Linked DNA regions of Homo sapiens: region 2 is linked to region 1. The links come from fine-mapping of genetic effects on gene expression. A gene starts in region 1. The other region holds a variant in brackets. All regions are shown on one strand. Distances are from middle to middle.

Region 1 (8,329 bases):
GGGTGGCAGCAACCCTCGGCAGGGACCGAATCACTTCTTTTCTCCCCGCTGCCACGTGTGGCATCCATGGGGCAGCCTGCACCTGGGGCGAAGAGAAGCATAATAGTTACCAGTGTAAGATTCAAAATTCCCTTTTTGCACTGCACAGTGAGATGCCCAGGGCTCCAGCTCAGTGCCTGGACATAGCGATTCCTGGGCCTGCCCGTCGCCGCCCCAAGCGAAGCTGGTGCGCCTTGGGCGGAGCAGACAGAGACCCTGGGTGGCAGGGGCTTGGGAAGACATGGGCGGCTAGGGCTTTATGCGCCCTCACCGCTGCCCTCTGCTATTTGCAGGCAATGGACGAGCCGGGAATGAGCCTCCTAGACCAGTCCGTGATCAAGAAAGGTAAGGAATGGTCTGTCAGGGCAGAGCCCGGCGAGATGGTGCAGGCCCTTGGTGCACAGATCCATTTTCTTCACCGGCCGTGCCTCCTGTGTGTCGCCAGGCTGGGTGTCCACCAGGCACTCTTCCTGGCCCAGCCAGATGTTAGGCAGACGTGCGGGCTTGGTGAGTTTGCCCAGCACCCTGTGGCCTGGGGTGGGCCTCAGCGGATCAGCATTCACTGGGCTGCAGCACTGGGAGCCTGGCCTCTCCCCGCCGAGGGGGAGGGCACTCTTGTGGATCTGGAGTTGATTTGCAGAACGAGTTAAACCACTTCCCTGTTTCCCTAAGAGATGGGAATGGAAGTGCTGTTCCCACGGAGTTGGGGAAATGATTTTCACTTTACAGTGCCTTAGCATTTCGGTGCCTGGCGGGCACTTTCTTCCTCTTCCTTCCAGGCAGGGCCTTGGAGGCCTCTGGGGGAATTTTCTTTCTGTGGGAGTCTCTTGCGGCATTTAGACTTAGGGGAGCTTGTGTGTGAGTACTGTGTGTTAGGCTGTGTGCACCTGAGTCAGGGCCCACCTGCTCCTGGGTGTCTGTGTCCATGTGAGTTCAGGGTCCTGTGCATGTCTGAAATGTTCCCTTCATGGGTGTCTTAGTATTTCTTGGAGTGTGAGTGTGTCTGTTTCTGTGAATGTGTTTGTGAGGTGTGTCTCTGTATGTTGGTGTGCATTTCTCTGCATTTGGGGGATGTACACATTTCTCAATATGTACAGTATCTCTGTTGTGTCCTGCACTTTGTTCTTTGGTATCTGAGGATTTCCAAGCATGCGCGGGCCCTCTCTGTGTATATATAGGAGTATTTATGTGACTCCTGGCATTAGTAAAATCCAGGGACACGGGATCCACCTTTTCTGGCCTGAGGACCAAGTACTGGCCATGACAGGGGAAGGTGAGAGACGACAAAAACAGAGAGACAGCCAGAGAGGAGCAGAGAGTCAGAGGGGCCCAGGCATTGGGTAGCAGCCTCTTTACATTTGGGGCAGGTGCCCGAAAGAATTCAGAGGTGCACATGAGCCTGAGGTGCCCCAGGCAGGCACTGCTCCCACAGGGTTTGGCTTGAGTTGTTTTTCAAACGAGTGAATTCAAGCCTGGGCTCTATTTGCCCTCCACTTGTTCTCAGGGGAGGCCAAGGTGGAAGTGGTGGTAGCAGGGCTGGGGCTGGACTTCCAGGAGCTGGGGCTGAGTTACCAGGAGCTGGGGGTTGGGTGGATGACTTGGAGTGTGTAGCAGGGAAGATGAGGCAACAGGGCAGGAAGTGGGTGGGGGGAGGTGGAATTGGGGCTGTGTCCTGTGTCGCTTGGAACTGGGAGTGTGGGAAAGACACTAGGAACCTGGTTGCAGCGCAGCTCTGCTGGTGGGGCTTGGTTGGCTTACTGTACAGAGCCTTTCTTGACCCCTGAAGAAAGAGATCCGTCTGCAGTGGGCAAAAGCCTGCCTGGACTTCCTGGCCACCAGAAATATGAGCATGGTGGTGGTCCCCAGTTCCCTATTCATGCTTGGGCTCAAGAGACTGGGAGTCTAGGTTCACTGACTCCCTGAGAAAGACTAAGACCCTGCATTTTAGAAAGAGGTTTGGGGATCTCTGCCCTGCGCAAGGGTAGAAGGATCAGCTGTTCCTCTGAGCACCTTAACCCGGAACCCCGGTCCGAAGCCGAGACAGGAGACTGGATGCGAGGCCCTCCCAGAGCTGGTTTCTCTCAAACAACTTCCAAAACTCCTAGATCCTAGGGGTACGCCGAAATCCCCCAAAGCAGTCCAAAGAACACAACGAGAGTCCTAACATCCCAGGTGGCGGCGCGCTGGCTCCCTGGAGCGGGGCGGGACGCGGCCGCGCGGACTCACGTGCACAACCGCGCGGGACGGGGCCACGCGGACTCACGTGCACAACCGCGGGACCCCAGCGCCAGCGGGACCCCAGCGCCAGCGGGACCCCAGCGCCAGCGGGACCCCAGCGCCAGCGGGACCCCAGCGCCAGCGGGACCCCAGCGCCAGCGGGACCCCAGCGCCAGCGGGTCTGTGGCCCAGTGGAGCGAGTGGAGCGCTGGCGACCTGAGCGGAGACTGCGCCCTGGACGCCCCAGCCTAGACGTCAAGTTACAGCCCGCGCAGCAGCAGCAAAGGGGAAGGGGCAGGAGCCGGGCACAGTTGGATCCGGAGGTCGTGACCCAGGGGAAAGCGTGGGCGGTCGACCCAGGGCAGCTGCGGCGGCGAGGCAGGTGGGCTCCTTGCTCCCTGGAGCCGCCCCTCCCCACACCTGCCCTCGGCGCCCCCAGCAGTTTTCACCTTGGCCCTCCGCGGTCACTGCGGGATTCGGCGTTGCCGCCAGCCCAGTGGGGAGTGAATTAGCGCCCTCCTTCGTCCTCGGCCCTTCCGACGGCACGAGGAACTCCTGTCCTGCCCCACAGACCTTCGGCCTCCGCCGAGTGCGGTACTGGAGCCTGCCCCGCCAGGGCCCTGGAATCAGAGAAAGTCGCTCTTTGGCCACCTGAAGCGTCGGATCCCTACAGTGCCTCCCAGCCTGGGCGGGAGCGGCGGCTGCGTCGCTGAAGGTTGGGGTCCTTGGTGCGAAAGGGAGGCAGCTGCAGCCTCAGCCCCACCCCAGAAGCGGCCTTCGCATCGCTGCGGTGGGCGTTCTCGGGCTTCGACTTCGCCAGCGCCGCGGGGCAGAGGCACCTGGAGCTCGCAGGGCCCAGACCTGGGTTGGAAAAGCTTCGCTGACTGCAGGCAAGCGTCCGGGAGGGGCGGCCAGGCGAAGCCCCGGCGCTTTACCACACACTTCCGGGTCCCATGCCAGTTGCATCCGCGGTATTGGGCAGGAAATGGCAGGGCTGAGGCCGACCCTAGGAGTATAAGGGAGCCCTCCATTTCCTGCCCACATTTGTCACCTCCAGTTTTGCAACCTATCCCAGACACACAGAAAGCAAGCAGGACTGGTGGGGAGACGGAGCTTAACAGGAATATTTTCCAGCAGTGAGCAGGGGCTGTATGGGACGCGGGAGGAGCTCAGAGGAGGCGCGGAGAGTGCCCGAGGTTGGGTGAGTGCCTAGAGGGGAGATAGTTGAACCGGGTTCAAGAGGTGCTTAGTGGGTGTTTGTTGAATGAATGAGTGATGGGCTTTGAAGTCTGAGTGCATTGAAAGAGGGGGTGTGTAAAAAGGGCTCCTTTCATCACACAGGACACAGCATATGCAAATCCTCTCCCTGTGGAAAAGCCAGACAGGTTAAAAAGGTTACAAACAAATTAGCCGGGCATGGTGGTGCGCGTCTGTAGTCCCAGCTACTAGGGAGGCTGAGCCAGGGGAATCGCTTGAACCCGGGAGGCGGAGATTGCAGTGAGCCAAGATCGCGCCACTGCACTCCAGCCTGGAAACAGAGCGAGACTCCGTCTCGGAAAAAAAAAAAAAAAGTTACAAACCGTGTGTGGGTTTCAGGTTATACAATCAGAGCTGGAGGGGAGTGGTCAAGGATGAGAACTGAGATGGATCCCTCGTTCCCTCTGGAGGAGAGTGGGTGGTTGCCTACTTGGGGGTGGGGAATCCCTCTCCACGGGCTCAGCTGTCCAATCTCAGGGGATCTCTAGGACAGGAGCTGATGTAAACAGTCGCCCTATTCCTTGCTGTCTTTGGCCCTGGAGAAGGAGGAGGGAGCTGGGGAGGGTCTCCACTTCCCAGACAATCTCTAAGCAGCCAGGACATGGGTGAGATGAGTGAGATACTGACTTCTGGGACAGAATTTGAGAGGGTGCCAAAAAACTCAGTAATCAAGATAAATAGGCCGGGCGCAGTGGCTCACGTCTGTAATCCCAGCACTTTGGGAGGCCGGATCACTTGAGGTCAAGAGTTCGAGACCAGCCTGGCCAAGATGGTGAAACCCCATCTCTACTAAAAATACAAAAATTAGCCCAGTGTGGTGGCGCTAGCCTGTAATCCCAGCCACTCAGGAGGCTGAGGCAAGAGAATTGCTTGACCCAGGAGGCAGAGGTTGCAGTGAGCCGAGATCATGCCACTGTACTCCAGCCTGGACAACAGAGGGAGACTATCTCAAAAAAAAAAAAAAAAAAAAAAAAAAAAAAGAGGCCGGGCGGCGGTGGCTCACACCATGTGATCCCAGCACTTTGGGAGGCCGAGGCGGGTGGATCACCTGAGGTCTGGAGTTCGAGACCAGCCTGGCCAATATGGTGAAACCCCGTTTCTACTAAAAATACAAAAATTAGCTGGGTGGGGTGGCAGGCACCTGTAATCCCAGCTACTCCGGAGGCTGAGGCAGGAGAATCCCTTGAACCTGCGGGGCGGAGGTTGCAGTGAACCAAGATCACACCATTGCACTCCAGCCTGGACAACAACAGCAAAACTCTGTCTCAAAAAAAAAAAAAATCTTTTTTTTCGAGACACAGTTTTACTCTCTCGCCCAGGTTGGGGTGCAGCACCACGATCTCAGCTCACTGCAACCTCTGCCTCTCAGATTCTCGTACCTCAGCCTCCCAAGTAGCTGGGATTACAGGTACCTGTCACCACGCCCAGCTAATTTTTGTATTTTTAGTAGGGGCGTGGTTTCACCATGTTGGCCAGGCTGGTCTTGAACTCCTGACCTCAAGTGACCTGCCCGCTTCAGCCACCCAAAGTGCTGGGATTACAGGCGTGAGCCACCACGCTTGGCCTTTTTAAATGAAAATAGTGCAAAAATCCACGATAAACAAAATATCAAAAATTTACTGAACTTGCACTTCCACAACCCTTTCTCACCTGCCTCCCAGGCTACTCTCTGCCCCAGAAAGCAACTTAAAAAATGTGCAGATGGAGTTTGGACTTTACCTGAAAATGGTGGGAGCTATGGAAAACCTTGGAGCAGGGGAGTGAAGGATAGAAATTATATGTAAAAGAAACCCTGGGCCGGGCGCAGTGGCTTATGCCTGTAATCCCAGCACTTTGGGAGGCCGAGGCAGGTGGATTACCTGAGGTCAGGAGATTGAGACCAGCCTGACCAACATGGTGAAATGTCATCTCTACTAAAAATACAAAAAAAATTAGCCAGGCATGGTGGTGCACGCCTGTAGTCCCAGCTACTCCGGAGGCTGAGACAGGAAAATCGCTTGAACCCGGGAGGCGGAGGTTGCAGTGAGCCAAGATTGTGCCATTGCACTCCAGCCTGGGCAACAAGAGCAAAACTCCATCTTAAAAAAAAAGAAAGAAAGAAACCCTCTGGCAGTTGATGAGAAGGAAACTTAATCGGCAGGTCCCAGCAGGGGAGATGAGGAGACTCTAGGGAGGGCATTTGCACATGCTGTGCCCCAGTGTGGGCCAGGGAGCAGGTCACTACTCCTCCCGTCTACCTTCCTCTTGCTCCAACCCCTTCAAGCTTTGGACCAGTGGTACCCTAAGTGTAGTCCAAGGAACCACATGCATCAGGACCCCCAGGGGGTGCTTGTTAAAAATGCAAATTTTGGCCAGGTGCAGTGGCTCACACCTGTAATCCCAGCACTTTGGGAGGCCGAGGCGGGTGGATCACGAGGTCAGGAGATCGAGACCATCCTGGCAAACACGGTGAAACCCCATCTCTACTAAAAAAACAAAAACAAACCAAAAAAAACATTAGCTGGGCGTGGTGGCGGGCGCCTGTAGTCCCAGCTACTCGGGAGGCTGAGGCAGGAGAATGGCGTGAACCCGGGAGGCGGAGCTTGCAGTGAGCTGAGATTGCGCCACTGCACCCCAGCCTGGGCGACAGAGCGAGACTCTGCCTCAAAAAAAAAAAAGCAAATTTCTTGGGCACCACCCCACATTGACTGCATGAGAACCCCTGGAAGTATGGCCCTGGAACTTGCATTTTTTAACGATTTTTTGAGGTAAAATTTACATACCTAAAATTTACACATTGTAAGAATATAATTTGATGATTTTTAGTAAATGTAGAGTTGTGTAACCATTACCACAAAAAAATCCATTTTGAGGCATTTCTGCCATCCCCAGAAGTTCCCATTTGTAGCTACTCTCCATTCTCACCCCAAGCCTTAGGCCACCACTGATCTGCTTTCTGTCCATAAATTTGCATATTCTGGACATGTTCTATAAATAGAATATATAAATATGCAGACTTTTGCATCAAGCGTCTTTTGCTTAGCATAATATTTTTGAGGCTCGCCCCAAACATTATGCTAAGTAAAAGAAACAGCAATAAAAAGAAACAAACTATTATCAGCAGTTTGTTTCTTTTTATTGCTTCATAGTATGCCATTGTACGGGTGTAACATATTTTGTTTATCCATTGGTCAGTTGACGGGCACTTGGGTTGTTTCCACTTTTTAGCTGTCTTAAATAATGTTGCTATGAACATTCACATACATGCCTTACTATAGAAATATATTTTTAGCGCTTTTGAGTAAACTCCTAGGAGTGCAATTGCTGGATTATATGGTCGGTTTAGGTTTAATTTTTAAGAAACTGTCAAGCTATTTTCTAAAGTGGCTGTATTATTTTGCATTCTCACCAGCAATGTGTGAGGGTTCCACTTTTCCACATCCTACACTTAGAATTGTCTTTTTTTTCTTTTTTTTTTTTTGAGATGGAGTTTCACTCTTGTTGCCCAGGCTGGAGTGCAATGAGGTGATCTCGGCTCACCGTAACCTCTGCCTCCTGGGTTCAAGTGATTCTCCTGCCTCAGCCTCCTGAGTAGCTGGGATTACAGGTGCGTGACACCACGTCCGGCTAATTTTGTTTTTTTAGTAGAGACGGGGTTTCTCCATGTTAGTCAGGCTGGTCCTGAACTCCCGACCTCAGGTGATCCACCCGCCTTGGCCTCCCAAAATGCTGGGCTTACAGGTATGAGCCACCATGCCTGGCCTTTTTTATTTATTTATTGTTTTGAGATGGATTGTCTCTCTGTCACCCAGGCTGGAGTGCAGTGGCACAATCTCGGCTCACTGCAACTTCTGCCTCCTGGGTTCAAGCAATTCTCCTGCCTCAGCCTCCCCAGTAGCTAGGATTATAGGCACGCACCACCACACCCAGCTAATTTTTGTATTTTTAGTTGAGACGGGGTTTCACCACGTTGGACAGGCTGGCTGGTCTCGAACTCCTGATCTCATGATCCATCCACCTCAGCCTCCCAAATTGCTGGGATTACAGGCATGAGCCACCGTGCCTGGCCCCTGTCTTTTTTATTATAACCATCAAGTGGTATCTCAGTATAGTTTTAATTTGCATTTCCCTAATGACTAATAATGTTAAGAACTTTTTCATGTACTTATTTAACCATTCATCTCTCATTTTTAGTGAAATGTCTATTTACATATTTGGACCATTTTCTATTTAGGTTGCTATCTTATTGTTGAGTTATAATAGTTCTTTATATAATATATTCTGAATACAGTCCTTTATCAGATATATGATTTGAAAATATTTTCTTCCAGTTTGTGGTTTATCGTTTTCTTTTCTATTTTTAAAATTTTAATTTTTTTTTTGCATTTTTAAAAATTATCTTTTTTTTTTTTTTCATAGAAACAGGGTCCCGCTATGTTGCCCAGGCTGGTCTCAAACTCCTGGCTTCCAGTGATCCTCCTGTCTTGGCCTCCCTAAGTGCTAGGGTTACAGGAGTGAGCAACTGCTCTCTTTTTTTTTTTTAATTAAAAAACTTTTTAGAGATAGGTCTCACTAAGTTGTTCAAGCTGGAGTTTGGTGGCTATTTACAGGCAAGATCATAGCACACTGCACCCTCGAACTCCTGAACTCAAGTGATCCCCCTGCCTGAGCCTCTCGAGTAACTGGGACTACATTCTCATGCTACCATACCATGCTATTTTCTTAATAATATCTTTTGAGGTGCAAAAGTTTTAGACTTTGATGAAGTCCAGTTTATCATCATTTTCTTTCTTTCTTTCTTTCTTTTTTTTTTGAGACCAGTCTCACTCTGTCGCCC
Region 2 (8,329 bases), 260 kb before region 1:
GACTGGAGTACAGTTGCGCAACCTTGGCTCACTGCAACCTCTGCCTCCCGGGTTCAAGTGATTCTCCTGCCTCACCCTCCCGAGTAGCTGTGACTACAGGCACGTGCCACCATGCCTGGCAATTTTTGTATTTTTAGTAGAGACAGGGTTTCACCATGTTGGCCAGGCTAGTCTTGAACTCTTGACCTCAGGTGATCCACCCACCTTGGCCTCCCAAAATGCTGGGATTATAGGGGTGAGCCACTGTGCCCGGCTGACAGTTTGTTAAGGCATGGAAAAGTTGCTTATTCTGTATCACAAGTTACATAGGAAAAGACAAAGGCAGGCACTGTCTACTCCTGGTAGGGTTTTTTGTTTTTTTGTTTTTTAATTTGAGGCGAAGTCTCGCTCTGTCACCCAGGCTGGAGTACAGTGGCATAATCTCGGCTCACTGCAACCTCCGTCTCCCAGGTTCAAGTGATTCTTCTGCCTCAGCCTCCCAAATAGCTGGGATTACAGGCATGTGCCACCACACCTGGCTAATTTTTGTATTTTTAGTAGAGACAGGGTTTTACCATCTTGGCCTGGCTGGTCTTGAACTCCTGACCTCAAGTCATCCGCCTGCCTTGGCATACCAAAGTGCTGGGATTACAGGCATGTACCACTGTGCCCAGCCATACTCCTGGTAGATTTTTTACAAATAAATAAAACCCTTTGATTCTCACATTTTAAATTATAACGTAGTAAGCAAATATTAGTTATACAATATTTTTTCATTTCCCTACACATTTAAACTGACACAGTGTTTTTGTTTTTGTTTTTGAGACGGAGTTTCGCTCTTGTTGCCCAGGGTGGAGTGCAGTGGCATGATGTTGGCTCACCACAACCTCCGCCTCCCGGGTTCAAGTGATTCTCCTGCCTCGTGAGTAGCTGGGATTACAGGCATGGGCCATGATGGCCAGCTAATTTTGTATTTTCAGTAGAGACAGGGTTTCTCTATGTTGGTCAGGCTGGTCTCGAACTCCCGACCTCAGGTGATCAGCCCGCCTCGGCCTCCCAAAATGCTGGGATTACAGGTGTGAGCCACCGTGCCTGGCCAAACTGACAGAGTTTTTAACGTTTCAAGTGTTTTGACAAAAAAAGATCATGGAACAATTTTAATTTTTCTCTTTGATCATTAAGATTGCTTTGCATGGTTTCAGCTTGCATAGTCGTTTTTATATTTCTGCGTGGTAGCTGCCTGTATAAAAAATATAATATCGCTGGGTGTGGTGGCTCATGCTTGCATTCCCAGCACTTTGGGAGGCTGAGGTGGGAAGATCACGAGGCCAGGAGTTCAAGACCAGCCTGGGCAATATAGCAATACCCAGTCTCTACAGAAAATTTTAAAAAATTAGCTGGGCGTGGTTGTGCACACCTCTAGTTCCAGCTACTTGGGAGTTGAGGTGGGAGGATCCCTTGAGCTCAGGAGTTTGAGGCTGCAGTGAGCCATGATCATGTTACTGCATTCCAGCCTGGGCAACAGAGCAAGACCCGTCTCAAAAAAATTTTTCCAAAACAAATTTCTCACATTGAGAAACTTGAAAAAAATGATTGTAAAAATCATCAGGATTAATACATTTGAAAAACTAAGGGACATCCAAATCAGAGTAGCAACAGGGAAAGACTAACATTACTCATTGTGGCGGTTGAAGGAATAGGAATAGGATTGGACATTTGATTTGGAGTGGTCTGTTGAAAGTATACAAATTATTTGAAACTTCAGTGGAAACTTTGGGAGTTTTGGAAAATTTAAAGTACACTCTATGGTTAAGTTTTTTAAATAAACAAGTTTCAAACTGCTTATTAACTAATAGAAATGATTCTTTTATTTAGCAAAGACTGAGTTTTTGTTATATTTTACGCAGTGTTGTAGGTGCTAGGCTACTAAATACAGAACAAATAAAAATATCTTTGGGCTAGTGTGATACTGTGATATAATAGGAAATACATATTTGGTTTCTGCCCCAGGTTCCTGGCACACAGCTCCTAAAACTGTTGGAATCTCTGAAGTGATAAGTGTGGATTGTGTACTAATGAGTGACTTGGGCTTAGGGCCAGGCCTTTCCATAGCTTCAGCATGGGGCTGGTCACCAAAAATACCAAGACATGACTAGAGGGCTAAACATCGAGTTGAGCAGCAGTGCCAATGATTTACTCAATCATGGCTGCATAATGAAGCCTCCATAAAAACCCCAAAGGCAAGGTTCAGAAAACTTCCGGATTGCTGAACCACACAGAGGTGCTGGAAAGGTGGCATGCCCAGAGAAGACGTGGGAACTCCATGCCTCTCCCCAGCATGTATCATCCTATGCATCTCTTTCATCAGGTTGTTCACCTGTATCCTTTGTAGTATCCTTTATAATAAACCAGTAAATGTGTTCCCCTGAGATCCATGAGCTGCTTTAGCAAATTAATTGAACCTGAGGTGGGGGTTGCGCACACCCCAAGTTATATAGCTGGCCAGTTACAAGGTCAAGTCACAGCCTGGGGCTTGTGATTGGTATCTGAAGTGGGAGGCAGCCTTGTTGGACTGAGCCTTCAACCTGTGGGATCTTACTCTTAATTCTAGGTAGATAGTGTCAGAATTGAAGTGAATTATAGGACACACAGTTGGTGTCTGCTAGATATTTGGTGTGTGATGAAAAAGTCCCACATATCTGGTCACTGAAATGTTCTGTGTTGCGAGACTGTTATAGCAGAAAAATAATCTTTTGTTTGTTTTTTTCTTCAGGGTGCACTTTTGCCTGCCCTGGCTTTGAGAAGTGTAGGATTTCTAATCCTTTATAGAATCTTGATTTCATTTAGGTTCTATTGAAAGAAACTAACTAGATTGTTTTTTGTTTTTAATTTTTAACATTATTCTAAAGGTCTTTATATAAAGCGCTCCTTTTTATTGATTTTGTGTTTAGTCTCCAAAGTTGGATTAAAACTCAAGGTTTGTATAACCCCTGTTATCTGTCAGCAGGTTGGTCTACAAAAAGAATGGGATATGACCTCATACAGCTTCAGAAACCTGTATGGGTACTTGATTCTTTATAGCATTCCCAACTTGGGAGTAAAGTTATTATAGTTGTTACACAGTCACATTGGTCGTAGTATCACTAGGAAAGAGCTGTGAATTCTACTTTGTTCGGGAAGTTGGGTGTGTGTGGGTTGTGTGTGAGATTATGGTACCATAGAGGAGTAGCAGCTTTAGCTTGAAGCTGAGTATATGTTTACTATTGAATTAAGACTGGAAAAGCTTAAGCACTGTGCACAGTGACCCAGATGCTTGAAACTACCTGAAAGGTTGGGTGAGCAGCTATAGGTTATTTATCATGGCTGGAGCATTTGCTTACAGGATGGGGATGTAATGGGAATGTGAAGGCAGGAAAAGATAAAGCTGTAGAGGAAATTAGGGCTAGATTTTGGAGAGTCTTATATATCCACAGAAGTTTGGACATTTTTCTTGGGAGACTTTCAGAG[CTG/C]TGTGTGTGTGTGTGTGTGTGTCCTTCCCCTTAACCTCTCAGTACCTCCATTTCTTCACCTATAAAATAGAGGTGTTAACAGTACCTACCTTATGAGATTTTTGGGAGATTAAATTGGATTAAATCATATAAAGTACTTGGAAAAAAAGTGTCATAAACTGGGCATGGTGGTGTGTTCCTATAATCCCAGTAACTCATGAAGCTTAGTTGGAAGGAATTAAATTTTAAAAAATTAAATATTTAATTTTTTTAACCTAGTGATCTTTTTTAACCTAGTGATCCCACTTCTAGAAATTGATCCTACAGATATACTCACATACCTAAGCCATATCATATGTATACAGATGACAACTGCAATATTGCATTTAAAAAAAAAAAAGCAGGAGGCAACCTTAAAATGTTCATCAGTATAATATAATAAGAGACTGTGCAGCCACTGGAAAGAATGAAGTAGATCTCTGTATAATTTTCCAAGATATACTATTGGGTTTTTTAAAAACAGGGACATTTCTATGTCTCTCTTCATTTTGTATCTTTACCAGTCTGAGAGAAAATGGTATCTCAATTTTGATTTTGGGTAAGATTGAATGTTTAGTGCTTGTTTATGTTCTTTGATCACTTTCTATTGGGATAGTACTCTTTAATTGAGTCCAAGATTGCTTTATACATAGAATATTAACCATTATTATACTACTACTACAACTTTTTCATTCATATTACCTTTAAGCTTTTCCAAACAATTTTTTAGAAATATAGTCAAACTTTAAAATCTTTTTCATGAAGATCTCTTTTTCTGGTTAAAAGACTTTTCTATCTTCTAGGGCTTTTATTTTTTTTTCAGTTTATTTTTAACTTATCTGGGATTAATGTTGATGTGAAGTAGTGATTGTGATCCAAATTTTTTCACCTTAAATGGTTGTCATCTTCTAGTTCTCTTTTTTCCTTTAGGAGTGAGAATAGATCATTGGGTTTAGCAGTGTGGAGGTCGCTTATGACCTTGACGAGAAAAGTTTCAGTAGAAATAGTGCAGGCAGAAGCCTTACTGAAGTGGGTTCAAGAGACAGGTGTCGTAGGCAGCATGTATAGACAACTTTTTTTTTGTTTTGGTTTTGGTTTTTAGATGTAGTCTTGCCCTGTTGCCCAGGCTGGAGTGCAATGGCGTGATCTCGGCTCACTGTAACCTCCGCTTCCCAGGTTCAAGCGATTCTCCTGCCTCAGCCTCCCAAGTAGCTGGGATTACAGGTGTGTGCCACCATGCCCGGCTAATTTTTTTGTATCTTTAATAGAGATGGGGTTTCACCATGTTGGCCAGGCTGGTCTTGAACTCCTGACCTTGTGATCCACCTGCCTCGGCCTCCCAAAGTGCTAGGATTACAGGCGTGAGTCACCACGCCTGGCTTTTTTGTTTTGTTTTTGTTTTTGTTTTTGAGACGGAATCATGCTTTGTCCCCTAGGCTGGAGTGCAGTGGCACAATCTCGGCTCACTGCAACCTCCACCTCCTGAGTTCAAGTGATTCTCCTGCCTCGCAGCCTCCCAAGTAGCTGGGATTACAGGTGCCCGCCACCACGCCCAGCTAATTTTTGTATTTTCAGTAGGGATGGGTTTTTGCCATGTTGGCCAGGCTGGTCTTGAACTCCTGACTTCAGGTGATCTGCCCACCTTGGCCTCCCAGAGTGCTGGGATTACAGGCGTGAGCCACTGCACCCGGCTGGACAACTCCTTTGAAGAGTTCTGCTGTCAAGGGGAAGAGAAAAATGAGCAGTAGCTCTAGGGGGATAGAGAGTCATGAGAAATATTGTATAAGATGAGAAGGAATAATAGCATCGGGCCTTGGGACAGTATTGTTCAAAAACAAACTGTTATTAAACAATGGGATTCTTCTCAGTGTAGGCAGATGCTTTCATTCTTTGGCTTACAGAGTGACATTTTTCTTCGTTTTTTGTTTTTTGTTTTTTTGGTGTTTTTTTTTTGAGACAGAGTCTCGCTCTGTCGCCCAGGCTGGAGTGCAGTGGCACGATCTCAGCTCACTGCAAGCTCTGTCTCCCAGGTTCATGCCATTCTCCTCATTCTCCTGCCTCAGCCTCCTGAGTAGCGGGGACTACAGGCGCCCACCACCATGTCCGGCTAATTTTTTTGTATTTTTAGTAGAGACGGGGTTTCACCATAATTAGCCAGGATGGTCTCGATTTCCTGACCTCATGATCCACCCGTCTCGGCCTCCCAAAGTGCTGGGATTACAGGCGTGAGTCACCACACCTGGCCCAGAGTGACATTTTTCATTTCCCATTTCCCTTTCATTCTAGAGCCTAGCTCATTGACTGGAATGGTAGGTGGAGTGACCTTCACTATTAGTTTGCTTTCCTTTACTTTCCAATGTTTACATAGTTGAATTTCAAGTTAAATGTGTTTATAAATTACCTGCACTATCATTTAAAAAATTGCTCCTTTTGTTTTCTTTTGGAATTCTGATATATTTTACCAGGATGTATCCTTTTTTTTTGTTATTTCTTTGGTATTTAGTGGGCCCATTCAATCTCAGATATGGTATTTATATCTTCAGTTCAGGGAAATTTTTTTCTGTTATCCCTTTCACCATTATTTTCTTCTTTGGGGGTACCTTTGATATTGCTGTTAGACTTAGTGCTTCAATCCTCCATGTCACATAAATTATCTTTTCCAACTTTTTGTCTAGAGATGAGGTTTCACCATGTTGGCCAGGATGGTCTTGATCTCCTGACCTTGTGATCCGCCCACCTCAGCCTCCCAAAGTGCTGGGATTACAGGTGTGAGCCACTGGGCCCAGCCAAGAAGTTGCTTTTTTATAAGTTACTTGTTTCCTTCTGGAGTGGTGGTTCTGTTTGTTTACCTTGAACTTTCTCTTTCACATAGGTTTCTTTTGGAAACCTGGGATCTTTTATTTTCTCTTCATATTTATGAATATCAGATACTACTGATTACTATAGCTAGCTGTTGTGTTTCCTCTACAGTTATGTAGGTAGCTAGGTAGTTCTTTTTTCCTTAAAAGTCTCTCCCTTGAATGGGGTGGCTGATTCTGGCTTCTTACAGTAGGCAAGGTTTATCAAGAAGCAGCATTTCTTGTGTTCTTGCCTCACTGATGAGTAACAGGCAGGGAAGCAGGAACCTCCAAAGTAAGGAGGCCTTCAGAGACTCAGAGTGAAGTGTGCCATTTTCTTTAGTTCTTTGGTGGAGTTACCGGTGCTTTGCTTTCTTTTCCCTCTGTGTTTAAAGATCTGAAATTACCTCTGACATGGCTCTACTTCTGTCTTAGGCACTAACGTACTCAGTAGGAACCATCCCTATAACAGGCCTCACTTTCAATTTAAGAGCAGCATGTTTTTGGCTTTAGCTTAAGAGCAAAAGCTGTTAATTTTTCTGTTCAGTTTTGATGGGAAGTTTTACATAGTTCTCGGTGTTAGTAAGTTCTTATGAAGCGTTAGCTGTGTTTACTGTTATTAAAATATATATGATCATCTCTTTTGTGACATGAATGATTAAAAAAATAAGTAGTTGTTTATAGTGAGAGGATGTGATTTATCTCTTAGTTTTTGGTTTGGGGCTTTGGTCTGAGAACTACTTTGGTTCATCCTAAATTTTATTTTACTCTATTTGGCAATGTTTTTGTTTATATTGTGCACTTGTCATTTGGGTTGAAAATTACAGCTCCTTGGGGAATAGGGAGGGATACCAAAAGAATGTATGATAGAAGATATGATGGTAATGTTACTTTTTCCTTTTTTGCTTTTCCAGTTTGAACAAAAAAGTGGTGCAGTTTTTGATGAAATTGTAGAGAACTGTAAGTACCATTTGAGAAAAAACAATCATGTCTTTAGATAGAAAATGAATGTTAATCTAGATGTGGTATTTAACTATTACAGTGTTTAGTTAGGGCTGATTTATGTGATGGTTCAATCTGATTTAGTCTAGATCTCATCACGTACTGTTCTTTCAGCAGGTTAATCTGAATTGTAAGAATCTTATTCTTTTTTTCAATAAATATTTTATTCTCATAGTTATCATATTAAAATATAGCCATACTTCGTGTCTATATGGAAGATTATACTTACCACTATTAAGGGTTTCTACTTGGGTTAAGGTCTTTTATTTTCTTTTAAAATTCTTTTTGTGTTATCGTATTTTTAGAAATAATTTGTTTTTTATGATTATAAAAGTAATACATTCAATTTTACAATACAGAAATGAATAAAATAGAAAGTAAAAGTCTTTGTCATTACCATTCTCCAAAGATAACCAGTTTTAAAAGTTTAACATATATATCTTTCCAGACTTTTTTCTATGAGTGTATATAGCTATACATGGTGTATGGAGATTTATATATGTGTGTAGGAATCATAGATACTGTTCTTGCTTTTTTTCATTCAACTGCGTAGACATCTTTCTGTGTCAATGGATATAGACCTGTTGCACCCTTTTTAATGGCTACTCAGTATTTTATTGTATGGCTGTATAATAAGTCCTCACTAAATGTTGTTGATATGTTCTTGGAAATTGTGACTTTAGGTGAAATGACATATAATGAAACCAATTTTACCATAAGTTTAAATTGATAGAAGTAAGAGTTAAGTTCCTGTGGCATATTTTTAGTCACAAAAACACCATCAAACTTCTAAATAAAGATCTGAAACACTTCTAATATTAAACATTGAAATAAATGTGAGCTATACATGCATACAAGAAAGATTAATAAAAACAAGTAAGATAATTATTTACCCAGTTTTTGGTGAATCAGCGAGTGATGGTGCTTGTAGTGGTGGTTGGTTAACTTAAGGAATAAATGTTTGCAAAGCAAACATTGTCAAGA

What was found. PIP is the estimated chance that this variant, and not a neighbour inherited with it, causes the effect.
Region 2: its variant is the best candidate, but not a certain one, in a credible set for the expression of TFAP2E-AS1 in whole blood (INTERVAL, PIP 0.79).

Annotation. Positions count from the first base shown.
Region 1 is chr1:35,574,617-35,582,945 of GRCh38, forward strand. TFAP2E-AS1 (TFAP2E antisense RNA 1) reads right to left here and starts at 3,246. Exons shown (of 3, transcript NR_183387.1): 1 at 2,050-3,246; 2 at 1-82. TFAP2E (transcription factor AP-2 epsilon) reads left to right here. Exons shown (of 7, transcript NM_178548.4): 3 at 333-384. RefSeq lists enhancers at 1-149, 1,847-2,699, 2,700-3,552, 2,805-2,894, 3,075-3,144 and 1 more.
Region 2 is chr1:35,318,103-35,326,431 of GRCh38, forward strand. ZMYM4 (zinc finger MYM-type containing 4) reads left to right here. Exons shown (of 30, transcript NM_005095.3): 2 at 7,258-7,303. Among named protein-coding and RNA genes, the nearest start is that of ZMYM4-AS1, 44 kb to the right of the region's middle. The variant CTG/C (reference allele first, on the strand shown) is at 3,487.